4 linked regions of the Homo sapiens genome follow. The protein of the gene in region 2 purifies or fractionates together with the protein of the main gene of each other region. This does not show direct contact. Each region holds a gene or a part of one and is shown on either strand. Other genes may lie near its edges. The genes, in order: IDH3G, PRKD3, ALDH5A1 and FUCA1.

Region 1 (5,698 bases), on a different chromosome or scaffold from region 2:
ACGCCTGCTGGGTGGTATGAGCAAGTGTGGGAGAGCAGAGTGGGGGGCCCTGCTCCAAGGGTGGAGGCACAGGGCCGCTCTTGGGGAGCCCTACCCCAGTCTGCAGTGCACGTGAACCGTCGGCTGGGTGGGCACTGGTCCTGCCCAGTCAACAGCACTGGGGCCATGGCCAAGGGCAGGGGCCACTAGGAAGGGATCAGCCTCAGCCTCACATCACTGGGCCTGTCCCTCTTGGAGGACCTGGGGACCCCGAGGCTCACAGCAAACCCCACTGAGCTCCTCGGGTAGGCGGATCGGGGTGGGGCAGGAGTCCGTGGGGGCAGGACAGCCTTGGCCCCAGCCCGTCCCCAGGGCTCCCCTTGCTTCCAGCACAAGCACTTCACGGAAGACATCCAGACTCGGCAGTACCGGGCCGTCGAGGTGCTGATCGGCGCCGAATACGGCCCCCCGGCAGACATCTGGAGCACAGCCTGCATGGTACGCCCGCCCGGGCTGCCCTGTGCCCAGGGCCAGCAGCCCACCAGCCAGCAGCCTCACCTCCTCCCCCTTCCAGGCCTTCGAGCTGGCCACTGGTGACTACCTGTTCGAGCCGCATTCTGGAGAAGACTACAGTCGTGATGAGGGTAAGGGGTGAGGGCTCTGGGCTCAGCCTCCCGGCCTCCCGGCCTGCCTGCCCCCAACCTCCTCTTTCTGCCCACAGACCACATCGCTCACATAGTGGAGCTTCTGGGGGACATCCCCCCAGCCTTCGCCCTCTCAGGCCGCTATTCCCGGGAGTTCTTCAACCGGAGAGGTGAGGGCCCGGGCAGCCTCAGGCCATGTGGCTGCAGGGAGGGTGGGACGGGGACCTTGGATTCTGCAACAGAGGGAACACTGGGTCCCAGGAGCCAGGGCCTAAGCAGAAGGCAGGTCCAGAGACAGGGACAGAGCCTGACGCCCGCTGGCCTGCCCGCAGGAGAGCTGCGGCACATCCACAATCTCAAGCACTGGGGCCTGTACGAGGTACTCATGGAAAAGTACGAGTGGCCCCTAGAGCAGGCCACACAGTTCAGCGCCTTTCTGCTGCCCATGATGGAGTACATCCCCGAAAAGCGGGCCAGTGCCGCTGACTGCCTCCAGCACCCCTGGCTCAACCCCTAGGCCCGGCTGTGGCTCCACCTCCAGCTCTCCGTGCCTTAAGGGAAAAGCGGGACAGCTCCCACCACCCTGCTGGGCGCCAGTTCTCCACAACCACAGGGCAGAGAGACGCTGGAGCCAGGCCCGGCTCTCAGAGCGTGTTCTGCCTGAGACCCCCGTGAGGGCTCTCGGAGAAAGTGTGTGTATTCCTTTCTTAATAAAGTGTGGACTGAACATCGGTGCCTGGAGTGAGGGAGGCCCACGCCAAGTCTAGGGAGAAGGTGCTTTATTCTGGGATCTGCGTACCAGGCTGGCTGGGGTGCTGGAGTGGGAAGGGGAATCCAAGGAGCAAACCAAGAAGGTCCTAGGGCCAGCCTAGGCCTCCACGGCCCGGCCGTTGATGACGCGGATGTGGCGGATGACGTCCTGGATGGCTTCAGATGTTGTGCCCTGGCCCCCGATGTCCGGAGTGTGCATCTGTAGGACACAGGCAGGCTCGGCACACACCAGGCCCTGCCACCCCCCGCTGTCTCCTGTGACGTGCAGGACTGGGATTGCCACAGGAGGGAAGTGGCACCAGCTAAGGGCCAGAAGATGGGGCCAGATCCAGTACCATCCTCCCCTGGGGGCTGTGGTCAGTGCATGAGGCGGGCTACAGGAGGCTGCAGGGGGAGACTGGGCGGGGCAGCAGGGTAGGGTGCGAGGGGAACCTCACATTCTCATTGTCCATGGATGCCAGGACAGCCTTACGGATGGAGGTGGCATAGGAGTGCAGCCTAGAGGATGGGACAGCCAGCCTTCAGTCCCTGGGGCCCGGAGGGCTGGCCAGGGGCTTGCGGGGCACTGGGAGCCACTCACTTGAGGTGGTCCAGCATCATGCAGCTGGCCAGCAGGGTGGCCGTGGGGTTGGCGATGTTCTTATTGGCGATACTCTTGCCGGTGTTCCTCGTAGCCTGGGGAGGCAAGACGAAGGAGAGTGGGTGGAGGGCAGAAGGATGCCGGGCAGTGACTCTGCTCCTGTGACACGTCCAGAAGAAGCCACTCCACAGGGACAAAAGCCCACCAGCGGGTGCCAGGGGTTGGGGGAAGGTGTGGGGACAGATAGCTTATGGGGACAGGCTTTCCTCGTGGGGTGGTGAAAATGTTCTGGAATGACCTGGTGGTGACGGCAGTACAACCCTGGATATCCAAAAAACTACTAAATCATGCATTTTGAACGGGCTAACCGGATGGGATGAGTGTGCCTCACTAAGTCTGTGAACAGGAGAAAGGCGGCAAGCCGCGGCACTGCCACCGGCACTCACTGTTTCAAACACCGCGTACACATGGCCATAGTTGGCCCCAGCCACAAGGCCTGGGCCCCCGACCAGTCCCGCGCAGACATTGTTGACGATGTTGCCATAGAGATTGGGCATCACCATGACATCAAACTGCTGGGGCCGGGACACCAGCTGCGGGACAAGGAGGGGGCTGGCTGAGGAGCAGATTCGGAAGCATGGGTGAGAGAAGCCCAGGGCACTCAGGGCAGGGGGACAGCACTGGGCAGGCTAATACCTGCATGGTGGTGTTATCCACAATCATGTTCTCGAAGGTGATCTGAGGGTAGCGGGCTGCCACCTCCCTGCAGCACTGGAGGAAAAGCCCATCGCCCAGTTTCCTGGTGGGGGGTTAGGAATAGGACACCAGCTTGGCCATCGCAACAGTCAGCCAGAGGGACGGGGCGTGCAGAGGGCCCCAGGAGGCTGGGGTCTGAATTCTAACCTGTCCCTCACCAGCAAAATGGACAGAATCCCACCCCACCTCCCCTAAGTGTGGGTTCTGGCAAGGCCTCGAGGGCAACAGGGCACTCGCCTAGGGTGGCACCTCGGTGGGTAGCTGGGCTTTTGGACCACAAATCCCTCAGAGCAGGCCCAAGCAGGCCACTGCAGCTGCTTCTGGACTGCTCGCAGAGAGGTCAGGGGACATACATGATGTTGGCCTTGTGCACGGCCGTCACTTTCTTGCGCCCGCTCTCCTGCGCCAGCTTGAAGGCATACTCGGCAATGCGCAGGGACTTGGCCTTGGTGATGATCTTCAGGCTCTCCACCACTCCCGCCACACTCTGAGGAGGGCATGGGGAGAAGAGACCCATGTGCTACTGAAGAGCAGCACTGGCCAAACAAGCTGGCGCGACCGGGCCACCGTGGGAAGCAACCCTGTCTGCCTATTTCTGGCTTCTCCCTCGGGCACAGCCCCTGCCCTCTAAGGGTACACCTGTCCCTGGTTCCTTAAGCTCTCCCCTTAATCTTGACGCTGGGGGGGCTCATCTCGGGCCCCCCATGCACACCTCATGCTCCAGGCTGCTGTACTCGCCCTCTGTGTTCTCCCGGACAATGAGGATGTCTATGTCCTTGTGCCGGGTCACCACGCCTGGAAGGCTCTTACAGTGGATGACGTTGGCATAGAGGTCCAGGCTGGTGCTGGGAGGGGACGGAGAAAGAGGCTGCTAGGCCTGACAGGTGGCTGACTGGAGCCAGACTCCACTGGCTCACCCCACCTTAGCCCCACCAAGCCCCCAGCCCGCACACCCGGATCTCACCGAAGGATGTTGTTTCGAGATTTGTGCGACGGTGGCAGGTTATGGTTGGTTTCGATGTTGCCTACAAAACACAACACAGGCTTAGTGGCACTGCCCATCCCCGCCCCACCTCAGCAGGGCAGCTGAAGGCTGCCGGGGTCAGAAGACTTGGGGAGCAAAAATGTTTCCTGAACACTAGAATGCTAGAATGCAACTTCCAGCCTAAGCCCCACGAGGCTACACGCTCAGGGATCTCGAAGGGCACCTGGTGCAGCAGGTGCTCCATGAATAACCCCTGAACGACGGAATGAACAAGTCAATAAATGAATAAAGGCTGGCAACCAGCCAGGCAGCCATGCCATTCTCCATCCAGGCTCTGGAGCAACAGAAAGTGACCACTCTTTACTAACAGGTTGGCCGGCCAGGCTGGAGCTAGCAAGGTGGCCTTGGCGGTGTTACTGCCAAGCCCCCGCATCAAGGCACCACACTCAGAGGCAGGCGGGGGCTGCCTGGAGAAGGCCACGGATTGGCCGGACCCTACCCTACGACCCAGGACACCTGGAGGAAGGGAAGCAGAGGCCAGTGGCCGCTGGAGACAGCAGTCAGAGGGCGCCAAGCAGAGGCCGCCTGCTGGTGAGCGGTACCCCACCCAGACTGCTCCACTCACAGCGCGGGGGTCCCCTGTGGCTGGCACAAAGGCCCCTCTACTTGACTGCCAGGGCCTGGGGCTCCCCCTGGGTTCATCTTTGCTCACACGCTCCTCACACAGTGCAAGTAATGGGCTGAGTGTGCAAAATGAGCAATGGAAGTAGTTTAAGGACCTCAAGTGAAGCCCCAAGAATCCCTGCCTGGGCTGTGCCATCCACCTCCAGGCTGGCTGCAGCCGAGGAGCCAGGCAGAGGGTCGGAACTGCATCTCTGTGATACCTGGTTTGTGAAGAAAGATGCTGAGGGTCAAAGCTGACCCCAGCAGAGAGGACTGTCTCAGGAGGGAAGGAGGGGTGGGAGGGAACCCATCAGGGAGCCCGTCACTGGACAGGCTCACACACAGCTGCTCTCACTCGAATCCCAGCATCGCAGCGCAAACAGGCCCGAGGAGGCGTCCACCCAGTCTCCAAGCACGAGGGTCCTCTCTAGCCAGACAAGCCCTGAAATCAGAGCCGTGGGGCCCCACAAGAGTCAGCTCAGAGGGAGGTAAAAGAAATCACAGGGGCTGGGCACGACGGCTCACGCCTGTAATCCCAACACTTTGAGAGGCTGAGGCGGGCAGATCACGAGGTCAGGAGTTCAAGACCAGCCTGGCCAACATGGTGAAACCCACTCTCTACTGAAAATACAAAAATCAGCTGGGCGTGGTGGCGGGCGCCTGTAATCTCAGCTACTCGGGAGGCTGAGGCAGGAGAATCGCTTGAAACTGGAAGGCAGAGGTTGCACTGAGCCGAGATCACACCGCTGCACTCTAGCCTGGGCGACAGAGCGAGACCCCATCTCAGAAAGAACGCAAGAAAGAAAGCAAGAAAGCAAAAAAGCAAGCAAGCAAGAAAGCAGGAAAGCAAGCAAGAAAGCAAGCAAGCGAGCAAGTAAGCAAGAAACGAAGGAAGAAAGCAAGAAAGAAATCACACCTAGGGCCCCATCCTGGCCCCTGGCCCTGGAGCTCACCCTTCAGGGCCACGCGGTTCCGGCGGATGGCCATGATGGCATTGCGAATGTCCTCTTCATCAGCATTGGAACTCACGTGCACCTCTTCAAAGTCCACTGGTACACATGCGTGCCTGAGGCACGGCAGGGTCAGGGAGGCTGGCCCAGACCCCCCCGCACCTCCTCCAGGAAGCCTGCCCAGGCTACCTCTCTCCTGTTGCTACCTGCCCTGACCTGGCTCTGACTGAGAAGGGACTGGGCCCACCTTCACTGACTGATGGGGACACGCTTGAACTCCACAATGCACACTGTGGCAGGACTGGTGCCACCTTCCCCGAGCCCAGGCCAGTCTGGCGGGATCACAGGCCATGGGACGCAAGGCCTGGGC
Region 2 (8,509 bases):
CCCTGTCTCTACAAAAAAAATACAAAAATAAGCTGGGTGTGGCAGCACCACTGCACTCCAGCCTGGGCGACAGAGCAAGACTCTGTCTCAAAAAAAAAAAAAAAAAAAAATTCAGAGCCGAATTTGTGGACTACCTGCAAGTATGTAGGTTTGAATGGCAGGCAGGCAGTTTTAGTTCTCTATGTCCTTACCCATGTTTTTATTAATTTGCTTATGCTCTCTTATACTTTACATACGCTTTTAAGCTACCTTGAAGTTTTTACACATCAAAATAGAAAATAAAGACAAACAGATTAATGAATTCTTAGAATTGTGTATTTTCTCAAATGATCCAGTATAATGGTTTTATCTTAACAAAATCATTTTTCTTTCGTAGACTGACAAATGAAAATATTTTTATTTTTTAAGTATCTTAATTCATACTATTAAAATAGGGAAATCACTGAATTATAATTATTTTAATAAATGAAATAGCTTAGCTATACTGAAATAAAACCTACCATTTTCTGAACCAATATAAGCATAAAAGATTCTTCTTCCAGAACCCTAAAAAGTTGAATAATCCAGTAGCAGAATTAACAGGTTTATGTAAAAATTCATTTGTATTTATTTTAGTTCCTCTACAAAATACTGTACTTTTCTGCATATGGTTTAAGAATGTTTCTGTTCTGCTTAGCAGAGCAGCAATATTAACTACCTTCATTAAGATTATTTGTTGGCTAGAATGTGTACATCTGTTACTAATGTTCTTTCCCAAAACATTTCTCAGTGGCTGCTTGCCAATACATTTTTAGGTTGATATTTTAAAGTATTAATTTATGTAGTAACTCATATTCAAAGCAAGCTGTTGAAATAAAATTTCATCATGTTATAATGCCTAATAGTTATCAAATACCTGACAACAAATGTATAATCTATTCCCCATTTAATGTTCTTGTGTGCTATCATACACTGTCAAGAAAAGCTTTATTTTATTATTATTATTATTTTTTAATTACACTTTAAGTTTTAGGGTACATGTGCACAACGTGCAGGTTAGTTACATATGTATACATGTGCCATGCTGGTGTGCTGCACCCATTAACTCGTCATTTAACATTAGGTATATCTCCTAATGCTATCCCTCCCCCCTCAGAAAAGCTTTATTTTCTTATATGCTTAAGCTTATATACAATTATCTTACTCTGTCTTGTAAGCAAGAATTTCTTGTTACAAAACCCTCAACCCTAATGTTTTATTTAGATCACTTGATAATTCAATTCCACAAATACTTCTACTATATAAAAAGTACAATACCAAGAACTGCTAATTACATGAAAAAAGTATATAAGATTATAGTTAGACTACTTATATCCTATCCTGGCTCAATGACTAATAATCTAAGACATTTACATTCTATTTTAGTTTTCACTCTACTGTGAAAAGTTTCTACTGTACAGCATTGCTGAGAAGGTATGAGACAAAAAGATAAAATCATCTTTAAAAAGCATAAAAGCATTATATAACTATAAGCAAATAATTATTCCAGTATGCTGTTAAAAACTTGTTTCATTAAGAGATGTTTTGAGAATACTATAGAAGTGTGCTGGGTTAGTATCCAAATACGGGTGGGTCCCTATCATAATTTTAGTAGCTTTTATTACGTCCTACCTATTTCAGGGTGATTATTCTCGGGAATGACAGTTTTTGTATAATTCTCCAAACTACATACTTAAAAACAAAAAAAACCCAAAACTCTTGCAGTATGCTTATATGTGTGTGTAATAAATGTTTAATGAAAAGAGGAAAGCGTTATTTTTATTTTGTTTAGTGTCTGGCTCTGGAATCAAAAAGACATAAAACCTCAAGTATCAGCTTTGCTGCCTACTAGCTATTCTGTATTGGGAAGTGATAAGCATACAGGTGAAGAAGCCATCCTCAGAGATCCACATTCTAGTTTTTCTGTTTACTAGCTACATGATCTTAAGCAAGTTACCTAATCTATGTCTATAAAATGAAATATGACTCCTATTACTACTAACTCCTATTACTAGTACTCCTATTACTATTAGTAGTTAATAGTAATAGTAACTCCTATTACTACTAGTATATTAACAAAAGCATAATTCACATACAATTGCTTTGAAGACTGAGCATGTAAAGGTTTACTGTTCTACTATAGTGCCTGGCACCTAACACACACTGCAGATAGTAGTAATAGTAGTTTACACACACATTTATATTTTGTTTATATTTCTCTTTCCTTTATATAACAATTATGAGAATAATTTCTTTGGCTAATGCTTCTGAAATATAAATATTTTAAGCCTATATATAATAACAAAAACAGACATAAATTTTAATTAGGGAAAACACCTAATCCTACCTTTACACTGCATTCCTTGGCGAAAGAGGCCTTTCAGTAACCGCTTGCAGTACTGACATATCGTGGGACGGGTGTAAGAGTGAACAGCAAATGTGTGTGGAACTTTCACTCTGCACATTACCATCTTTTCCATCCAGATTGGGCGACCACTCCAAGAAGGAATTCTCTTACTTGGTTCCTGGTGGACATGTGACTATAACATAAGTAATTTTCATAAGTGTAAGTCAATATTAAAAACAGAGTAGTGGGAGCAGAGCTTAACCACAAGAATCATTTATTTCAAACACTAAAGCCAAAAAACTCTAAAAATGTTGTTCTCAGCAGTTTCCTTTGCAATGTTTAATTTACCAATCTTTGAATGAGAAAAATGCAGATTCTTTTTGCTAATATTTATGCTTAAAAACATCTAAGATATGTTAATTCTCAGGTATATATTCACTGATGATTATTTGCCAGGCACATTTCAGCACTTTACAAATCAAATACACAAACTTTAAAACAAATAAATGAAGAAAGTATTATTGCTGCTCATTTTGCATTACTGAATGTGACATCTGAATATATTTTGAAACACATTTTAGATTTTCAAATTTATCTTAATACTAAAATATATACATACATTTTAAGTCTAATTAATAATGATAAACAATGGCAGATACAAAACTAATTAAAACAAGTTTCAGTAATTCAGCTTTAAGAAGAAGTAAACTTTGTTTACCCATTTTGGAGACTATTCCAGAACCTAGCTAGTTGGTTTTCTGCCTGGTCTTCTGGCCAGGCGTGGTGGCTCACGCCTGTAATCCTAACACTTTGGGAGGCCGAGGTGGGCGGATCACCTGAGGTCAGGAGTTCAAGACCAGCCTGACCAACATGGAGAAACCCCGTCTCTACTAAAAATACAAAATTAGCCAGGCGTGGGGGTGCATGCCTGTAATCCCAGCTACTCGGGAGGCTGACGCAGAAGAATCGCTTGAACCCAGGAGGTGGAGGTTCCGGTAAGCCGAGATCATGCCATTGGACTCCAGCCTGGGCAACAAGAGCGAAACTCCATCTCAAAAAAAAAAAAAAAAAAAAAAAAAAAAAAAAAAAAAGAAAAAGAAAAAGAAAAAGAAAAATACCTGCCTACACTATCAATCTGAGGCATTTTATAGTGCTCTTCTCCAACCAGTTGTTTTGTCCTTTTCTTTTCCTTTTCTTCCCTTTTTTTTCTTTTTTCTCCTCCCCTTACTTCTCCCTTGCACTTCTCTGTCTCTTGTTTTTTTCTGACTTCTTTTCCTTCCCTTGGTTGAACATATTAATGTAGAATTACCCAACTTCTCTGAATTACAAACATGACTAGTTATAGAAGGCAGCTGAAAGATCTCAGGACATCAGTTCTGGCAGTGAGGATGCAAGCAGGTACAGCAAAATCTGTTCATATAGCTAGATGGTAGTTGGGTATTAGGATTTTGTGCTTGAGTATTTGGATTATGTTTTATTCAATTTTGTGTCCCTAGTATATAACAGGGCCTGGCATACAATAATCGGTGAATGTGTGTTGAATGAATGAAATGAGCCACATTGAACTGGGTGATCTATAATTTAGTTTGATTATTCCCTTCATATAGAAAGGGTCATAGTTACCAAAATCTACTTACCCCTCAGGTTACAAAAATTTTTAATTCATGCCTTCTTTAATTTTGCTTTTTGTTCACCTGGTAGAAAAACCCAAACAGTTGGAAAATAAAGTTCTTCTTTTTGAGACTATGCTTGAACTGACTAAAGTAAACCCTGAAAGCCCTTCCATGCTACAAGTTCTACTTGTTTAAAAATACCCTGAACAATCTAACCAATTCAGACATGTAACTGCACTTCTTATACTTCCCTAAGGAGCTTTCATGTTCAAGATAAAATATAAACTAATGAAAAATGTAACACCTTATCCACTTGCTCTGTCCTTCTGCTATTTCCTAATCTAGTAATACTCAACTGGGCATAGGTGGCGTAACAGCATCATTTGTGGGGCTCTTGACATACCTCTATTCTACTGTCCTCATTCCTAGGTAAGTTCTCTGTGCAGTTCAGTGTATAAGATGCACTAACTTTTTCCTACTAATCTTTTCCAGGCTCTTCTGTAGGTTTATACCAACCCCTCATTTTCAGTCCTTTATGCCGCAGCACTCTTTTTATCCTTTAAAAATCTCACACTAGGGCTAAGCAGTAAGAGAAGATGGAATTTTTGTGAAAGGATTTCAAAAGCTTTTACTCTGGTGTCTTAACTTAGCAAAATATTATGATCACAGTACCAAGACAAGGCCTTGATTTTGCCATTAATTTACAGAAGATCAGAGAAGTTACAGAAAAAACTAAATAATAAGATTACAACCTACAGATGGAAGTCATTTCAAATACTATGAAATGTACAAGGGAGTTATTTCTTTTTTCCTGGATCTACTGCCTTTGCCCTTGAGAGGTACACTGTATTAGGAAAAAAAATCACTGATTTATTAATAATGAGATCTGGGTTTAATTCCACTATCTCTTACTAATTTGCTCTCTGACTTCACACAAGTCACTTAGCTGCTCTGTGTCTCAACTGTCTCATCTGTATACAGATCTGCAGATAGCAGTGCCTCATGCCTGCGATCCCAGAACTTTGGGAGGCCGAGGCGGGCAGATCACGAGGTCAGGAATTCAAGACCAGCCTGTCCAACATGGTGAAACCTCATCTCTACTAAACATACAAAAATCAGCTGGGTGTAGTGGCACGCATCTGTAATCCCCGCTACTTGGGAGGCTGAGGCAGGAGAATTGCTTGAACCCAGGAGGCGGAGGTTGCAGTGAGCAGAGACCGTGCCACTGCACTCCAGCCTGGGCGACAGAGCAAGACTCCATCTCAAAAAAACAAAAATTAAAAAAAAAATTAAAAAAAAAAAAGATTTAAGTATGGAGACCAGGAGCCAGGATACTGACTAGAAGGCTAAAGCAGTGGTACAAGCCATAATACCATCCCAAGGTGTACAAAATGCAATTCATTACTACCGGTAAGTCCTGTCTCCATTACTACATTTTATGTTTCTTAAGTGTAGGAACATTACCATTCTTTAGCATATAAATTATGTTCTAGAGTGATGTCATACACCCTGTAGAAACACAGAGAATAACTACTACTAAAATGTCTATTACCTTAGAATACGTACCTCTTCACTGGGAAGGGCTACATATTCAGGCTGTAGGGGTCTTGGAACTGAGAGGCCGGGTCCTGGTAAAGATACATTTGACAGACGTCTCTTTCTTACTCCACTACAGTTATTTGGAATCTTGAAGGCACATCGTTTATGGTAATTTAATCCACAGCCTAAACATATTTTACAAGGTAAAATATAAGATTTAAAAAAAAATTTACTATTTAAGTGTGATACATAAAAACCACTGCTTCTTTTATTTAACATATTTTCTGTTAGCCATACCTATCCTAATTAAGAACCCAGACAGCAGGCTAAGTGGAAGCTAATGAATTCAAGAAGAAAAGGAAATGTGTAAAAAGGATAAGTCAGCTAGGGCAGTGGTTCTTGAAGTGTGGTCCCTAAGGCAACCACCTGGAAATTTGTTAGAAATGTAAATTACAAGGCTCCACCCCAGATCTACTGAATTAGAAACTACGGGGATGAGGCCCAGCAAAGTGTGTTTTACGATGCACAATACAGTTTGAGAACCACTGCCTTAAAGCACTAGTTAGCAAACTATGGCCTCTGTACCAAATTCCTCCTGTGACATGAAAATTTTATGAAACTCAAATTTCAATGTCCCTAAATAAAGTTTTATTGGAACACAACCATATCTATTCGTTTACATATTGTCTATGATTGGTTTCATACTGTAATAGCAGAGTTAAATCATGACAGAGACCATATGGCCAACAAAGTCTAAAACATTTACTCTCTGTCCCTTTACAGAAAAAGTTGATTGACCCTCCACCTTAGAAGACTGTTTCTTCATCAGAAATGTGCACCTGTGTCCTACTCCTAGCAATTCTAATTCAGAACAAATTTGACAATTTAGTTGTATGTAAGAGACAACTTTTTTTTTTTGAGACAGAGTTTCGCTCTTTCACCCAGGCTGGAGTGCAATGGTGCAATCTCGGCTCCCTGCAACCTCCGTCACCCAGGCAGGTTCAAGCGATTCTCCTGCCCCAGCCTCCCGAGTAGCTGGGATTACAGGCATCCGCCACCACGCCCGGCTAAGTTTTTGTATCTTTAGTAGAGACAGGGTTTCGCCATGTTGGCCAGGCTGGTCTCAAACTCCTGACCTCAGGTGATCCACCAGCCTCGGCATCCCAAAGTGCTAGGATTACAGGTGTGAGCCACCGTGCCTGGCCAAGAAAACTTTTAAAAACAAAAAACAACATGAATATTTATGGAGCCATTATTTTGTACTAAATATTTAACCCTATTACCTGATTTAACCGTTTACTCTTTATGAAACCAGTGGGGCAGAATGTATTTTACGAGAAATTAATCTTAAGAGGTTTAGTAATTTGCCCAAGAATATGAAGTAGGTGGCAGAGATAAAATGAGAGTCCTGATCTCTCCAATTCTAAATCCTCGTTACCACCCTAGTCAACAGCTCGTCATCTTGCTTTTTCACTGATAATAAAAAATGCAAATGTGGAATCTTATTTCAAATGACCACAAAAATTTTAGAACACACACCTTCACATTTCAGTCCTTGACGTACCAATCCCCAGAGCATCTCACCACAGTAATCACAGAAAGTAGGAGCTTTGTAAGAATGTACATAGAGAGTATGTGGACGAATCTGGAAGTCTTCTACTGTGGCTAAAGCTTTAAAAAAGAAAAGTATTACAATACACGTTGTATTTGTACTGCGATGAGATTAAGAATGCTCACACATTCACTTATGTCAAAGTACACAGAATCATTTTTTCTCTGAAAGTTGCACTGGACCATAAAAGTAAATTATTTAATATTGTGATTTCAAACTCTAGTTTAGCAAGTCCATTTACTTCTCATCATTTGAGCTCCAGAAGTAGGTCATAGGTTAGTTATTTGGAACTCCAACAGCATTTTCTCATAATGACAAGATTACAAACAGACATTAGGTTACTTTAACCAATTAAAAACTGCTTAACTTACACAGTGGGAAATAGAACACTAAAGTAAAAACTACTATGGAACTTAACTTCAATTTATGGAAACGTTTCTGTGGAAAAAGATACTGAGTCCTAATTTAGGATCCCAGGATATACTTGTCTGTTTGTTCTCCACAGTCCTAGTGGATATGAGAAAGAAACTCCTTTCCCCTTAGTGAACGTCGGGACAGTAGACCCAAGGAACTTCCTCTCACCTCAACCTGCAAGTAGTCTGATGGAGTCCAGAGTAGAGAAGGAAGAGATGTGAGCAGGACTTCCAGGTGAGACAGGGAGTGAAACTCCTCAGGAATGAAGAGGAGGGCAAGGATTGGGAAATATAGAGATGGTTTGGGGTTGTTGTATAGAAGATGAATGATCAGTGTAGCAGGGAGTGAGATGAATGAGAGAATCAGAAATATAAGATGAGAGGAGTGGGGACTAATAAGGACAGAGAGGATCTCAAGAAAAGGCTCAAAGGTGAATTTGAGAAAAGGGAACTTGGTAGCAGGGCTCTGACCCATGGCTGGCCAGCTTGCTTCCTTTCTTCCATCAGTTCTCCTACTTGCCAAACAAAAAGTACTGCAGACCTACTATGTGCATTATTATGGCATTCTTTCTTCCTTTTCACTCCTTATTATCTTGCCCACATTGCTGCAGGATGAGATGGCAAATAGTGGGAATTAAAAAACAACGTATGGCAAGAATGCGTGAGGTGGAAAAAGTGAAAGGTAGAAAAAAGCCCAGTGGGACAAAAAGGGAAAGAGCATTTTTAATTTTAAAGCCACAGAAATAACCAGCATTGTAATTTCCTCTTCCATATCTTCATTACTTCTTTTTTTCCTGATTCTCTTTTCTAAACCCCAATTTTCTTCTTTTATGCTCTTTACAGAAATGGGGGTGGGGGAAGGGGAAAAAACAGAATTTCAGTGTAACTGTTTTATTTCTTTGACTCAGAGAAGAGTATATTTCTTTCAGACCAAATAATTTCCTAAGCTTAGTAACATTCAAGTAAT
Region 3 (7,379 bases), on a different chromosome or scaffold from region 2:
TTTGAGATGGAGTCTCACTCTGTCACCCAGGCTGGAGTGCAGTGGCATGATCTTGGCTCACTGCAACCTCTTCCTCCCCAGTTCAAGCGATTCTCCTGCCTCAGCCTCCCAGGTAGCTAGGATTACAGGCGCCCACCACCATGACGGGCTAATTTTTGTATTTTTAGTAGAAATGGAGTTTCGCCATGTTGGCCAGGCCGGTCTCAAACTGCTGACCTCAAATGATCCACCAGCCTCGGCCTACCAAAGTGCTGGGATTACTGGCGTGAGCCACTGCGCCCAGCTGACTAAATTAATCGTGTTATGTCAAAATTCATAGGTTGAAGCTCTAACCCCCAGTACCTGAAATGTATTTGGAGATAGAGCCTTTAAAGAGATGTGATTAATTAAGTTAAAATGAGTAAAATGAGGCCATTAAGATGGGTCCTAATCCAATCGACTGGTTTTCTTATTAGAAGAAGAGATTAGGACCTGCAGAGAGACATCTGGGGCACGCAGGCACAGAGGAAAGATCATGGGAGGACATGGCAAGAAGGCGGCCATCTACAAGCCAAGATGAGAGGCGTCAGGAGAAACCAAACCTGCCGACACCTTGATCTCGGTCTTCTGAGAATTCATTGAGCGATTCACTTATTCAATTATGTATCCTTTTTTTTTGCATGTATATAATAGTGAAAGGAAAGTTTAAAAAAGCTACCAATCTTGCCAAGTTACTTTCAAAGTCATTTATGAAGAGGTACTGCCAGGGATTTCCTAGGTAGAGATGAAACAGTTCTGTATCTTGATTCAGGTGCTGCCTACACAAATCTAACTATTGATGTGATCAAATTAGGTAGAGGTGTACAAACACTCACATACAAATGAGTGCACATAAAAACGAGTGAAATTGGAATAAGGCCTGGATTAACAGTTTTGCACTGGTATCAGTTTCCTGGTTTTGATAATTGTATTACATAGGTAATAAGCGAACCACTGGGTGAAGGGTACACGGGACTCTGCATTATCTTTGCAACTTCCTATGAATTTATAATTATTTCAAAATTAAAAGTTTAAAGATGTTGAGAAGGAAAGGCCAGATCCACATATCAACAGTAAAATAAGCATTTCCATTAAAATCAGGAACAAAGTTAAGAAAGGAAAAAAAAAAAAAGAAACAAAGTCACCATTTCTCCAACTAATTGGTCCCTAGAGCCTCTCTTGTTGAGTTGAGATTAGCAAGCAGCAAAGCTTCCTTTATTTGAAGCCTACATGGAGAGTATTATCACCTCCATTCTCCTAAAGATGATGAACCCAGAGTTGCAGGACTGAGACTTTATTGCAGCAGGAAGAGAGCACATAGGCTTATACGGTCATGCCTGGCATAGTGAAATTTCTGTCAGTGATGGACTGCATATATGATTTATGGACCCATGAGATAATGGAGCTGAAAAGTTCCTGTCACCTAGTGATGTCGTAGCCATCATAAAGTCCAATGCAGCCCAATGCATTAATCATGTTTGTGGTGATGCTGGTGTAAACAAACCTGCATTCTCAGTTGTATAAGAGTATAGCACATACAATTATGTACAGTATATAATAAGTGACTATGCTACTGGTTTACGTATTTATTATACTGTACTTTTCATTGTTATTTTACAGTGTACTCCTTCTACTTATTAAAAACAGTTTATTGTAAAACAGTATGTGGCTGGGTGCAGTAGCCCACTCCTGTAACCCCAGCACTTTGGGAGGCTGAGGCTGGAGGATTGCTTGAGCCCAGGAGTTTGAGACCAGCCTGGACAACATGGTGAGACTCCATCTCTATAAAAAACATGTTTAAAAGTTAGCTGGGTGTGGTGGCGAATGCCTGTAGTCTCAGCTACTCAGGAGGCTGGGGTAGGAGGATCTCTTGAGCCCAGGAGGTCAAGGCTGCAGTGAGCTGTGATGGTGCCGGTGCACTCCAGCCTAAATTACAGAGTGAGACCCTGTCTCAAAAACAAAACAAAACAAAACAAAAGAAATACTGGGTTATACCAGCAGTATAAACGTGTCTTGTTTACTGTGCCTCTTGATTGCATTATTTTCTCTTGTGCTTCAATTAATCTCGTGTTGCTTTGTTCATCACGGTCCCTTTGTCATAGAAAATCCACGGCTATTGTTGCCAGTAAGAGGCCACATCAAGTGACTGATCTTGAAACAAGAGATTAAGGATTACCAACCAATGGGTAAAGGAGTTACAGCAGCTTTTAAGGCCCACTGCCTGAGGAGGAGCAGCTTTGCTCAGGTTATTACTGCAACAAAGGAAGACACGGAGAAGACGCTGATGCAATTCTGAAAGGATTACATCTACGACTCCATCAGGACCCTTGCTTGGGCTTGGGGTGATGTTACCAAGGAACGTATAAATGACATCTGGAAGAAGACACTCAAGAGGTTCATCCGTGATTTCAAAGGATTTGCCAAGGACAAGGAGGTTGCAAAAACCAACAAGGCTGTGGTTGAGATGGCAAACAATTTTAACCTGGGGGTGGAAGAAGAAGACATTGAGGAGCTCCTACAGGTGGTTCCTGAGGAACTGACTAATGAGGAGTTGTTGGAACTGGAACAGGAACACATACCTCAAGAAGAGGCAAGGAAGAAAAAACTGCAGAAGAAAAAGAATCCCCATGAAAATTCACAGTGAAGAGCTGAGAAGTTTTTGCAGACCTCAGTAAGCGCCTTAAAAATTCTGAAAACATGGGCCCCTCAACACCAAAAGGGTTTCATTAACAGAGAGGAATGTTCTTTATGCACTGTCTGCTTACAAGCAAATCTATGATGAAAAAGGAAAGCAAGCAAACCACCATGGACATATTTCTGATGCATGACATCTCCTAAGAACCTCAGGTAGGTCTTGTTATCCTAGCTCCACGTTTTTTTCTTTTTTGAGTCAGGGTCTCACCTTGTCACCCAGGCTGGAGTACAGTGGTGCGGTCACGGCTCACTGCAGCCTTGACTTCCCGGGTTCAAGCGATCCTCCTGCCTCAGCCTCCTGAGTAGCTGGGACGACAGGCACGTGCCACCACACCTGGCTAATTTTTGTATTTTTTGTAGAGACAGGGTTTCGCCGTGTTGCCCAGGCTGGTCTTAAATTCCTGGGCTCAAGCGATCCGCCTGCCCTGGACTCCTGAAGTGCTAGGATTACAGGCGTGAGCCACTGGGCCCAGCTGTCCCTGCGTGTTATTGCCCCTGAAGACCTTCCAGCGGGGCAAGATGAGGAGGTGGGAGATAGAAATATCCATGAATCTGACCCTTTGTAGGCCTAGGCTAATGTGTGTAATTGTGTCTTAGTTTTTAACAAAAAAGTTTAAAAAAATTTAAAATATAAAAAAGCTTGTGGAACAAGGATATAAAAAAAGAATATATTTTTATACAGTTGTGCAATTAGTTTGTGCTTTAAGTGCTAAGTGTGATCACAAAAGAGTCAAAAAGTTAAAAAATTTTAAAAATTTATAAAGTAAAAAGTTACAGTAAGCTAAGGGTAATTTATTATTGAAGAAAGAAAAATATTATTTAATAAATGTAGTGTAGCCTAAGTGTAGAGTGTTTGTAAAGTCTAGAGTAGTGTGCAGTCATACCTTAGGCCTTCACATTCACTGTCACTCACTGACTCACCCAGAGCAACTTCCAGTTCTGCAAGCTCCATTCACGGTAAGTGCCTTTTACAAGTGTAATTTTTAAATCTTTTATACTTGATTTTTACTGTACCTTTTCTATGTTTATATACATAAATACTTGCCATTGTCTTACAACTGCCTACAGTATTTAGTACAGTAGCATGCTGTGCAGGTTTGTAGCCCTAGGAGCAATAGGCTAGACCGTATAGCCTAGCTGTGTAGGAGGCTGTACCATCCAGGTTTGTGTAAGTACTCTACAGTGTTCGTACAAGGACGAAACTGCCTAATGACGCATTTCTCAGAATATATCTCTGTTGTCGAGCAATACGTGATTGTAAAATGTGAGACGACATTTGCAAAAATGTCCACTAACCACTGGGCAGCAGTGCTGTCTGTGTTCTAAATTATGGTGAGGGCTGGCTACAATGGTGCACTCCCATAATCCCAGCACTTTGGGAGGCTGAGGCGGGAGGGTGGCTTGAACCCAGGAGTTTGAGACCAGTCTGGGCAACACAGTGAGACCCTGACTGTTCAAAAAATGAAAGAAAAATTAACTGAGTGTGGTAGCAGGTGCCTGTGGTCCCAGCTACTCAGGAGGCAGAGGTGAGAGGCTTGTTTGAGCCCAGGAAGTCATAACAGTGGGGCGTGTAGGAGAGAGAGATAGGCCAATCTGTGACGGCTGGCCTATACACCTTTCTGTGACCGCCACCTCTGCAAACCAGGTAAATTCTCAGTTCAGCTTAGCAAACATTCTATAAGCGCACACCATGGACAGGCCCTTCTCTGGGTTTTAGGGCACATCATTTCACATGCTGGCTCCTTCCCCAAGGCACTCACTGATTACGGCTCTCTGGGGGAGGGAGTGCTATTTACACAAATGCAAACTGGTCTAATATCATCCAATAAAAACTCAAAAGATCACCAAGTAGGGGGAAAAAAGCACAACCAGACACCTTAATACAGGGAGAGGAAATTCTGTTAATTCCACGTTTATTAATCACACAGCTCTCTGCAGACTAGACACTAAAACACACAATTGTCAAAAACTAGAAAAATGAGTTATGTCCACGTTTTAAAAGCAAAACTTTATAAATTTCTTACCACACTCATTCCCAAGTTTTATCCCACAAAGTATAGCATGAAACAATGACAACATACATATTATTCAAGTAAAATGCTATTTAAAATAGCTGCACACAGGTAATTAAAACACTAGGATCCAGTTTTTAGAGGAAAAAGTCATGTGGCACAATTTCAAGTTCATAATTGAAGTTAACAGTAAAACAGATTTGCTCACATTTGCTTCTGATCTTTATTTCTGCTGTCTCTCTTTAGTAGAATAAAGAAATGGCACTTCACATAAAATCATATTTAAAAGCTACTAAAATGGATAAACAGATGCAGATCAGCTCTTTAATGAGAATCCCTGCATAGCTGGAGGAAGTTCAAGGATAATTGTTTTTTCAAGGCAAATAGACTCTTGTTACGTGGCTAATTTCATGTACATTATCATCGCTGGGAAGTTCCTGCTGAGAACTCACGGTAGCTATGCCAGAAAAGTACTTTCTTCACAGGAGGTGTTGAAATAATGCCGGATAAATGCAAGTAAGGTCAATATCTCCCTCTTGGTCTAGATCAGGAGCTGGCAAACTTTTTCTTTAAGGAGACAAGTAGTAAATCTTTTAGGCTTTGCAGGCTATACTGTCCCTGTCCCAACTATTCAACTCTGCCAAGAAAGCAGTCCCAGACAATACCATAAATGAATGGGTGTGGCTATGCTCTAATAACATTTTGTTTATGGACACTGAAATCTGAATTTCATAGAATTTTCAGGTGTCATGAAATATTGTTCTTCTTTTGATTTTCTGCCCAATCATTTGAAAACATATAAACCATTCTTAGCTCACAGGTTGTATAAAAACAGGTGGCAGGCCAGGTTTGATTCGTGGGCCATAGTTTGCCAACCCCTGATCTAATGGTCCTTTTCTAGTCCATGTTGTAAAATGTATATATTTTTAAAATCCCGTTACATATGGCTACTTTATTTAAAAAACAACAAAAACGTTCAGTTAAAAATAATTCTCTTTCTTCCCACAACCAAGGGCCATTTTACTAAACAATAAGCTATTTCCTTTAATTAGAAAATTGATCAAGGATATACAATGAGTCTCTGGCCTCAATTTATGAACCCATGAGCCAAATATGCAAGAAGACTCAAAATTTGCCACCCAGCCAAAGAATCTACTGGCTTACAATGTTAAAAATTTATTTGGAAGTATTCCTGCACACATCTCAGCATCGGTAATCCAGAGTTATAAAAAATAATGTTGGAGCATTTGTATTCTTTTTTTGAGGCGGAGTCTCGCTCTGTCATCCAGGCTGGAGTGCAGTGGCGTGATCTCTGCTCACTGCAAGCTCCGCCTCCTGGGTTCACGCCATTCTCCTGCCTCAGCCTCCAGAGTAGCTGGGACTACAGGCACCTGCCACCACATCCGACTAATTTTTTTTGTATTTTTAGTAGAGACGGGGTTTCACCGTGTTAGCCAGGATGGTCTCGATCTCCTGATGTCGTGATCTGCCTGCCTTGGCCTCCCAAGGTGTTGGGATTACAGGCGTGAGCCACTGTGCCCAGCCCAGCATTTGTATTCTTAATAGAAAAAGGATGGATACATCTAAATCACAAGTAATTAAAATGTTATATAAAACCACCTAAAAACTACACAAATAAAGAGAAGACATTAACTGTCAAAATGCTGAGTATGTGATTCTTGACAGGGCCGGGGCACTGTCACTAGGAGATGAATTTCAGCTCTTCCTTCTCCTTGGGACCTTGGGAATGTGGCTAGTACACTCCAGGCCAGATGCTAGGCAGCTCCCTGTGTGCCCAGGGTCTTGCCAGACCTTTAGTTACTCAACCATAGCTTCCCAGTGGCTCAATGAGGGATGTTAAATCCTAGGTGGGGTTCAGGAGTAATTGCATCCAGCACTACTTTCATTCACATTTTCCTTCCACAACCCAGAATAACCACAAGATGTAAGTGGAGTCTACACAGACAGAGATGGGGAAAGGAAGGTGCTTCGTCTCCACCTACTTGGCCGCCTAATTGGATTTGCATCTGTTTAAGATTACGGAGTCTTTCTTTCAAAGTGAGAGGCAACGCCGGTCATAGCGGCTTTTGTTTTTTGTGCGTTATTTGAATGATGAGCTGTAAAAACTCTCATTAGATAAAAGGTGCCTGAAATTCAAGGGCTCATGCCTCTTCTACAAAGTGGGTTGGCAATTACAGAAATTCTTTCCCTTTTGGGTTGACTGTGGTGAAAGTACTTTTGCTCTTTTGGAGGTGAGGGAGCAGCACCACACCAGGACAGAAAGAACAGGCTCAGGTGACAGCCACTTACTCAGGCTCAGGTCGGTGGGCAAGTGGGCACTGGCCTCCTCCCATCTTGGCAAAGCCACTGACAGTAGGCAAGGAAGGGCTGGGCGGTGCTGCTCGTAACAATGGCTCTTGTATGTCCTTAGAATTTTCATTTTTTTGTGAAGTGCTTTTACTTTCTCTCTGGCTCACAGTATCGCAAGGAGCTAAGTAAGGCCTGTATGGAATCTCCACTGTATCCATGGGATGGGAGGTGCTGAACACACGCCCAAGGCAACAAGGCCACTCAGGGAAGGAGCCAGGCCATGCCACTGCGTGCCTTCCATCCTACCAAGCTGCTTCTGCTATTCTTTGCTTTACACTTCAGCTC
Region 4 (8,509 bases), on a different chromosome or scaffold from region 2:
CCTCCCTGTTCAAGCGATTCTCCTGCCTCAGTCTCCTGAGTAGCTGGAATTACAGGCATGCGCCACCACATCCAGCTAATATCATTCTATTTTTAGTAGAGACAGGGTTTCACCACGTTGGCCAGGCCAGTCTCAAAACTCCTGACCTCAGGTGATCTGCCTGCCTTGGCCTCCCGAAGTGCTGGGATCACAAGCATGAGTCACCGCACCTGAGCTAAAAATTCTCTCTCTATATATATTTTTGTCACTATAAAAGCAGGTTAGGCTCATGTGAGTAAATGAAAAATCAGGCTATATTATATTAACTTGAATTTCAGGGAGTGGCCATGGAGCACTTCCTGTGACACTGTACTTCTCATGGTGCTGAGTGCAGTGGGAAGGGTCATGCCCCAGAAACATGAGGTGTGGGCAGGGAAGCTGAGAATTTCAGGACATTCCTTACGCATTGGGCTATATAAATGAACATGCTGCCCCTTTGGGAAAACTGCTATAAAGAGATACGTTCTTTTTTTTTTTTTTTTTTTTTTTTTGAGACGGACTCTTGCTCTGTCTCCCAGGCTGGAGTGCAGTGGCACAATCTCGGCTCACTGCAACCTCCGCCTCCTGGGTTCAAGTGATTCTCCTGCCTCAGGCTCCCGAGTAGCTGGGACTACAGGTGCGCACCACCATGCCCAGTTAATTTTTGTATTTTTAGTAGAGATGGGGTTTCACTATGTTGGCCAGGCTGGTCTTGAACTCCTGACTTTGTGATCCACCTATCTCAGCCTCCCAAAGTGCTGGTATTACAGGTGTGAGCCACCGTGCTCAGCCAAGAGATACATTCTTTAAGACTTCTGGAGTGGGATTTGGGTGTGTGTGTTTTTACTGTGACCTTGAACAGGTATTATACATATCCAGGCAGCTCAGAAAAACTAAGGTTATATAGAGAAAATTTTAAATTCATTACAGAATTTGAAGAATTCAGACAGGCATGGTGGATCACACCTGTAATCCCAGCACTTTGGGAAGCCAGGACAGGTGGATTACCTGAGGTCAGGAGTTTGAGACCAGCCTGGCCAACGTGGTGAAGGCCCTGTCTCTACTAAAAATACAAAAATTAGCTGGGCACAGTGGTAGGCACCTGTAGTCCCAGCTATGCGGGAGGCTGAGGCAAGAGAATCACTTGAACCCGGGAGGTGGAGGTTGCAGCAAGCTGAGATCGTGCCATTGCACTCCAGCCTGGGCAACAAGAGCGAAATTCCATCTCAAAAAAAAAAAAAAAAGAATTAAAGAATTCATTATAAGAATTCATTACAGTACTCCAAGTGACACCACACCATTAACTTTTGATGTCTTCTTCTAGTCTTTTTCCTATGTAGTTAATTTTATATAGTTGTAATAATATGTAACTTATTTTATTTATTTATTATTATTTAAAAAAAATTTTTGTTTCAGACGGAGTCTAGCTCTGTCACCCAGGCTGGAGTGCAGTGGCGCAATCTCAGCTCACTGCAACCTCTGCCTCCTGGGTTCAAGCAATTCTCCTGCCTCAGCCTCCTGAGTAGCTGGGATTATAGGCATGTGCCACCACGCCCAGCTAATTTTTTTTGTATTTTTTAGTAGAGACGGGGTTTCACCACATTGGCCAGGATGGTCTCGAATTCCTGACTTTGTGATCCACCCTCCTTGGCCTCCCAAAGTGCTGGGATTACAGGTGTCAGCCACCGTGCCTGGCCACTTATTTTTATTTTTTAAAATAGAGATGGGGTCTCACTATGTTGTTTAGGCTGGTCTTAAACTCCTGCCCTCAAGCAATCCTCTTGTCTTGGTCTCCCAAAGTGTTGGAGTTACAAGTGTGAGCCACCACCATGCCCAGCCAATATGTAACTTTATTAAAAATAATAATAATAATAGAGATGGGGTCTTTCTATTTTGGCCAGGCTGGTCTTGAACTCCTGGCCTCAAAGGATCCTCCCACCTTGGCCTCCTAAAGTGTTGGCATTACAGGTATGAGCCACTGTGCCCAGCCAATATGTAACTGTTTTTTCATTCAGTGCTCTAAACATTAACCCATATTAAATTTGTCAACATTTTTATGGTTACCAGGAGTTCGAGACAAGCCTGGCCAACATGAAGAAACCCTGTCTCTACTAAAAACACAAAAATAAGCTGGGCATGGTGGCACGTGCCTGTATTCCCAGCTATTCGGGAGGCTGAGGCAGGAGAATTGCTTGAACCCGGGAGACGGCGGTTGCAGCAGACCGAGATCGCACCACTGCACTCTAGCCTGGGTGACAGAGTGAAGTTCGTTCATAAATAAATAAATAAATATACACATACATACATACATACATACATACATACATACATACATACATACAAATAATCCTGGGAAGGACCTCTGCACAACTTTCTTGTGTAACTCTAATTATTTCCTTAGGACAGGTTTCTGTTAGTCTATTCAATGTCCTTAAAAGGGTTCTATTGACCTGCACTTCTATCCAGAGTACTTCCATCACTCTTACATAAAAAAGCTGGTTTTGCAGCCATAAAAGAGAATGTGTCCTTTGCAGGGACATGGATGAAGCTGGACATCACTCTTACATAAAAAAGCTGGTTTTGCAGCCATAAAAAAGAATGAGTTCATGTCCTTTGCAGGGACATGGATGAAGCTGGAAACCATCATTCTTAGCAAACTAACACAGGAACAGAAAACCAAACACCACATGTTCTCACTCATAAGTGGGAGTTGAACAATGAGAACACATGGGACACAGGAAGAGGAACATCACACACCAGGGCTTGTTGGAATGTGGGGGTGAGGGGAGGGAGAGCATTAGGACAAATACCTAATGCATGTGGGGCTTAAAACCTAGATATCGGGTTGATAGTTTGCAACAAACCATCATGGCACATGTATACCTATGAAACAAACCTGCACACTCTGCACTTGTATCCCAGAATTTAAAGTAAAATTTAAAAAAAGAGGAAAAAAATAATTAAAATCAATCATATAGTATGTTAGAAGGTAATAATAATAATAATAATAATAAAAAGTGGTTTGAGATCCATAGTTAAAAAATAGTGAACTCAGGCCAGCTGCCATGGCTCATGCCTGTAATCCAGTGCTTTGGGAGGCTGAGGCTAGATCTCTTGAGGCCAGGAGTTTGAGACCAGCCTGGGCAACATAGCAAGACCCTGTCTCTACAAAAAATTTAAAAATTAGCTGGTTGTAGAGGTGCACACCTGTAGTTCTAGCTACTCAGGAGGCTGAGGTGGGAGGACCACTTGAGCCCCAGGAGTTTGAGGTTACAGTGAGGTATGATCGTGCCACTGCGCTATTGCCTGCATGACAGAGCAAGACCCCATTTCATTAAAAAAAACAAAAAACTCCCCTCTCCCTCTCCCTCTCCCCCCTCTCCCTCTCCCCACGGTCTCCCTCTCCCTCTCTTTCCACGGTCTCCCACTGATGCCGAGCCGAAGCTGGACTGTACTGCTGCCACCTCGGGTCACTGCAGCCTCCCTGCCTGATTCTCCTGCCTCAGCCTGCCGAGTGCCTGCGATTGCAGGTGCGCGCCACCACGCCTGACTGGTTTTCGTATTTTTTTGGTGGAGACGGGGTTTCGCTGTGTTGGCCGGGCTGGTCTCCAGCTCCTAACTGCGAGTGATCCGCCAGCCTCGGCCTCCAGAGGTGCCGGGATTGCAGATGGAGTCTGGTTCACTCAGTGCTCAATGGTGCCCAGGCTGGAGTGCAGTGGCGTGATCTCCGCTCGCTACAACCTCCACCTCCCAGCCGCCTGCCTTGGCCTCCCAAAGTGCCGAGATTGCAGCCTCTGCCCGGCCGCCACCCCGTCTGGGAAGTGAGGAGCGTCTCTGCCTGGCCGCCCATCGTCTGGGACGTGAGGAGCCCCTCTGCCTGGCTACCCAGTCTGGAAAATGAGGAGCGTCTCTGCCCGGCCGCCATCCCATCTAGGAAGTGAGGAGCACCTCTTCCCGGCCGCCATCCCATCTAGGAAGTGAGGAGCGTCTCTGCCCGGCCGCCCATCGTCTGAGATGTGGGGAGCGCCTCTGCCCCGCCGCCCCGTCTGGGATGTGAGGAGCGCCTCTGCCCGGCCGCGACCCCGTCTGGGAGGTGAGGAGCGTCTCTGCCCAGCCGCCCCATCTGAGAAGTGAGGAAACCCTCCGCCTGGCAACCGCCCCATATGAGAAGTGAGGAGCCTCTCCGCCCGGCAGCCACCCCGTCTGGTAAGTGAGGAGCGTCTCTGCCCGGCAGCCACCCCATCCGGGAGGGAGGTGGGGGTCAGCCCCCGCCCGGCCAGCCGCCCCGTCCGGGAGGGAGGTGGGGGGGTCAGCCCCCCGCCTGGCCAGCCGCCCCGTCCGGGAGGGAGGTGGGGGGGTCAGCCCCCCGCCCAGCCAGCCGCCCGGTCCGGGAGGTGAGGGGCGCCTCTGCCCGGCCGCCCCTACTGGGAAGTGAGGAGCCCCTCTGCCCAGCCACCACCCCGTCTGGGAGGTGTACCGAACAGCTCATTGAGAACGGGCCATGATGACAATGGCGGTTTTGTGGAATAGAAAGGGGGGAAAGGCGGGGAAAGGATTGAGAAATCGGATGGTTGCCGTGTCTGTGTAGAAAGAGGTAGACACGGGAGACTTTTCATTTTGTTCTGTACTAAGAAAAATTCTTCTGCCTTGTGATCCTGTTGATCGGTGACCCTACCCACAACCCTGTGCTCTCTGAAACGTGTGCTGTGTCCACTCAGGGTTAAATGGATTAAGGGCGGTGCAAGATGTGCTTTGTTAAACAGATGCTTGAAGGCAGCATGCTCGTTAAGAGTCATCACCACTCCCTAATCTCAAGTACCCAGGGACACAAACACTGCGGAAGGCCGCAGGGTCCTCTGCATAGGAAAACCAGAGACCTTTGTTCACTTGTTTATCTGCTGACCCTCCCTCCACTATTGTCCTATGACCCTGCCAAATCCCCCTCTGTGAGAAACACCCAAGAATGATCAATAAAGAATAAATAAATAAATAAATAAATAAATAAAAAACTGGACACCCTACTACCCACACCCACTTTAAGATATAGATTACAACCAACACCGTTAAAGCCCTTTTGCATGCCCTTCTCCATCCCAGCCCCCTCCTAAATTTTGTTTATAATGATCTCGCTTTTCTTCATAATTTTACCTCCAAAATATGCATCTGTAAACAATATGCTGTTTTTGCAAGCTTTTGAACATTATATAAAATAAATCATACTGCATGTTAAAAAAAAAAAAACAAAAACAAAAAACTCAAAGGTGCTCTTACCGAAATGATTTCAGATTCTTCTGTAACATCAGACAATGCCATGTCACGACGATAGCCCCAGGAAAACTTGTCAATGCTGGTGCACATCTCCCACTTGTGATCTGGCAAGCTCTGTGGCTTGAATTTATCTTCACAGTTATAGTATCCTCCATGGTGACAGGAACAGTTCTGACCCCATCGGTCATTTACTACCACCTCATCCTAAGGAGGGAAAGAATATTTGGTCATGAGGAGTAAAACCACTTGACTTCTTTATGTAATACACTTTGGTAAGGCTCTATTTGGAAGCAAGAAACTTAGTCTAGAGCAGTGGCTGTCAACTGGGGGCAATTTTGCTCTGGAGGGGACATTTGGTAAAGTCTAGAGACATTTTTGATTGTCACAACGGGGGTGGTATGCCATCTAGTGGGTAGAGACCAGGGATGTTACTAAACGTCCTACAATGCACAGGACAGCCCCCACAGCAAAGAAATATTCAGCCCTAAATGTCAACAGTACTGAGGTAGAGAAACCCTGCTGCAGAGATACATGTCAGGGCTGGGAGAGCTTGCTTTAAAGATCATCTGGTAAATCACTTTTTCTATAAGAGGAGAAATGAACAGGAGAGGACCTGCCTGGGGCCATGCCCCTAGGCAGTTTCAAAAGCTGGAACTACAAATCAGGTATCTGAACCCATGGCAGGCTGTTTTCCAACTATATAATCCCAGCCTTACTTACGTAAAAAAAAAGTCTTAAGACAATCCCACTCAAAAAAAAAAAAAATAGCAAATTCTTTTTCTTACTTCAAGGTTTAGCTGAAGAATGATAAATCATACATGGAATATCTTAATGTAAATGTTAAATGCAGCATATTTTATAACAGAGTGGCCAATACAAGATAAAAACTGAAACCATTTGGGAGGCCAAGGCAGGCAGATCATGAGGTCAGGAGATAGAGACCAACCTGGCTAACACGGTGAAATCCCGTCTCTACCAAAAATACAAAAAATTAGCTGGGCATGGTGGCACATGCCTGTAGTCCCAGCTATTTGGGAGGCTGAGGCAGGAGAATCGCTTGAACCTGGGAGGCGGAGGTAGCAGTGAGCCGAGATCGTGCCACTGCACTCCAGCCTAGGCAACAGCAGAGCGAGACTCCGTCTCAAAAACAAAAACAAAAACAAAACTGAAACCATGTTCAATTCATCACGGCAAAAAGAGATTTATTAAAAGTTTAAAATTCCCATTTCTTGCCTGTTTTAGAGTCATTCACATTGGTATGAAGTTTCTCCTATGGAAGCTAGTTAAGTGCCAAAGAGAAATAGAAGAATAGTCATTATTTGTAACTAGTTCAATCCAATGTCTGGTACTTGATTATCAATGTCTGGGCATCATGGGTCACAGAATTGAAAAGGACAACTCAAGATCAATTCAAGAACAGGTATGTAAAAGCCATTTCAGAGAAAAATGGGGTATTAACAATCCTAATTCTTCATTCAACACCTACCCATCCGCTTATTCAATAAGTATTTACTCAACAACTACCATGGGGCTCACACTGTGGGCAGATACTGGGTCTCCAAGGTGAATAAAACAGAGGTCTTGCCCTCAACCATCCAGCAGAGACTAGCAGAGGAGACAGATATGTGGACAATTACAATATGACATCATATCAGAGTTTATGCCTGGTTACAAGATTATCAAGGGCTTTGAGGTTCATAGCTGGCTCCACCACCTAGTAGTCAAGGGGTCTTAGGCAGGTAACTTTACCTTTTAAGTTAGTTACTTATCTATAAAAACAAACAAACAAAACCAACCAAACAAACAAAATCCAAAGGCAAATATCACCCACCTCACAGGGGTTTGAGAGGGAGGGATAAAAGTGACAGTGTGCCCAGACTCTGGCTCAGAGTGAATAAAGGTGTCTCCTTGCCACACCTCCTCTTTCTCAGAGTCCTCAGGTGATGTGAACGCTCCCTGTACACTCAGCCTGTCAAGGACAGACACAACCATGCACTCCTTCATCCCACAGAAGCTAATGCAGTACCCTCCACTTTGGCATTCGAACCAGTGTCTATGGATTGTGGAGACCTCAGGACATACTTCTACTATCATACTGGTCACCCTACAATGTACTTTGTTTGTATGTCTGTCTTTCTCTTCAGACTGTAGTTCCCTAAGAGCAGAAACCATTCATTCAGCATTTCCAAGGCTTAGCATGCGGCATGCTACGGCACCGGCTCTCAATAAATCCTGGTAGAAATGAAGGAGAATCTACAGTCCCCATATGTCTGCGAAGCTACTGTGAAGATGGGTTGAGGCACACCCACACAGAAGGTCCTGGTTGCTTAGGAATTATTGTTTAAGAGAGGCCGGCCGGGAGCGGTGGCTCACGCCTGTAATCCCAGCACTTTGGGAGGCTGAGGCGGGTGGATCACAAGGTCAAGAGTTTCAAGACCAGTCTGGCCAACATGGTGAAACCCCGTCTCTACTAAAAATACAAAAAATTAGCCAGGTGTGATGGTGTGCGCCTGTACTCCCAGCTACTCGGGAGGCTGAGGCAGGAGAATTGTGTGAACCCAGGAGGCGGAGGTTGCAGTGAGCCGAGATCGTGCCATTGTACTCCAGCCTGGGCGACAGTGCGAGACTCCCTCTCAAAAAAAAAAGAAAAGAAAAAAAAAAGCCAAAAAAGTTCAGGCTGTCTAGCTAGTCATGCTTTTTAAATGACACTGGGGTTGATATTTTCTTCCCTTTCCCAATCCTGCATCTTTGGCTAGTCATTTTTCCTTCTGTGATACTCCTTAAGCACAAACACTAGACTGTAACCTCACGTAGCAAGCGACCTAGCTCGAGGGGTATACACCCTGAACATATATACATAGACGCCATTTCAGAGACAAATGGGGTATTAACAATCTGAATTCTTGGTTCAACACCCACCTACTTTTCCTATTTATTCAGCAACTACCATGAGGCTCACACTGTGGCAGACACTGAGTTTCCAAGGTGAATAAAACAGAGTTCTTGCCCTCAACGATCCAGCAGAGACTAGCAGAGACAGATATGCAGACAATTACGATATGACATCACATCAGAGTTCATTACCTAGGGATGAACTGCACATCTGGGAGGTCACAAACATTCATCAAGTTCCAGAAAACCACTCTTTTTTTTTTTTGTGAGACAGAGTCTCGCTCTGTTGCGCAGGCTGGAGTACAGTGGCACGATCTCTGCTCACTGCAAC

Evidence for each region.
Region 1: the proteins of PRKD3 (region 2) and IDH3G purify together in Homo sapiens (affinity purification with mass spectrometry, with the first as the bait; one large-scale study listed by BioGRID). This does not show direct contact.
Region 3: the proteins of PRKD3 (region 2) and ALDH5A1 purify together in Homo sapiens (affinity purification with mass spectrometry; one large-scale study listed by BioGRID and IntAct). This does not show direct contact.
Region 4: the proteins of PRKD3 (region 2) and FUCA1 purify together in Homo sapiens (affinity purification with mass spectrometry; one large-scale study listed by BioGRID and IntAct). This does not show direct contact.

The regions. Positions count from the first base shown.
Region 1 is NC_000023.11:153,784,381-153,790,078, forward strand, and holds the end of IDH3G (isocitrate dehydrogenase [NAD] subunit gamma, mitochondrial isoform a precursor), read right to left. Parts: intron 5,445-5,698; coding exon 5,332-5,444; intron 3,756-5,331; coding exon 3,695-3,755; intron 3,576-3,694; coding exon 3,443-3,575; intron 3,218-3,442; coding exon 3,084-3,217; intron 2,774-3,083; coding exon 2,671-2,773; intron 2,568-2,670; coding exon 2,421-2,567; intron 2,070-2,420; coding exon 1,975-2,069; intron 1,893-1,974; coding exon 1,832-1,892; coding exon of another isoform or gene 1,769-1,831; exon of another isoform or gene 1,594-1,768; coding exon 1,492-1,593; 3' UTR 1,388-1,491; downstream 1-1,387. Other genes in the region: SRPK3 (SRSF protein kinase 3), read left to right, coding at 1-14, 370-477, 554-623, 701-793, 956-1,140. UniProt on the Homo sapiens protein: Regulatory subunit which plays a role in the allosteric regulation of the enzyme catalyzing the decarboxylation of isocitrate (ICT) into alpha-ketoglutarate.
Region 2 is NC_000002.12:37,283,812-37,292,320, forward strand, and holds part of PRKD3 (serine/threonine-protein kinase D3), read right to left. Parts: intron 7,189-8,509; coding exon 7,057-7,188; intron 5,703-7,056; coding exon 5,545-5,702; intron 2,559-5,544; coding exon 2,366-2,558; intron 1-2,365. UniProt on the Homo sapiens protein: Converts transient diacylglycerol (DAG) signals into prolonged physiological effects, downstream of PKC. Involved in resistance to oxidative stress.
Region 3 is NC_000006.12:24,534,422-24,541,800, reverse strand, and holds the end of ALDH5A1 (succinate-semialdehyde dehydrogenase, mitochondrial isoform 2 precursor), read right to left. Parts: 3' UTR 4,594-7,379; downstream 1-4,593. UniProt on the Homo sapiens protein: Catalyzes one step in the degradation of the inhibitory neurotransmitter gamma-aminobutyric acid (GABA).
Region 4 is NC_000001.11:23,849,071-23,857,579, forward strand, and holds part of FUCA1 (tissue alpha-L-fucosidase precursor), read right to left. Parts: intron 5,491-8,509; coding exon 5,290-5,490; intron 1-5,289. UniProt on the Homo sapiens protein: Alpha-L-fucosidase is responsible for hydrolyzing the alpha-1,6-linked fucose joined to the reducing-end N-acetylglucosamine of the carbohydrate moieties of glycoproteins.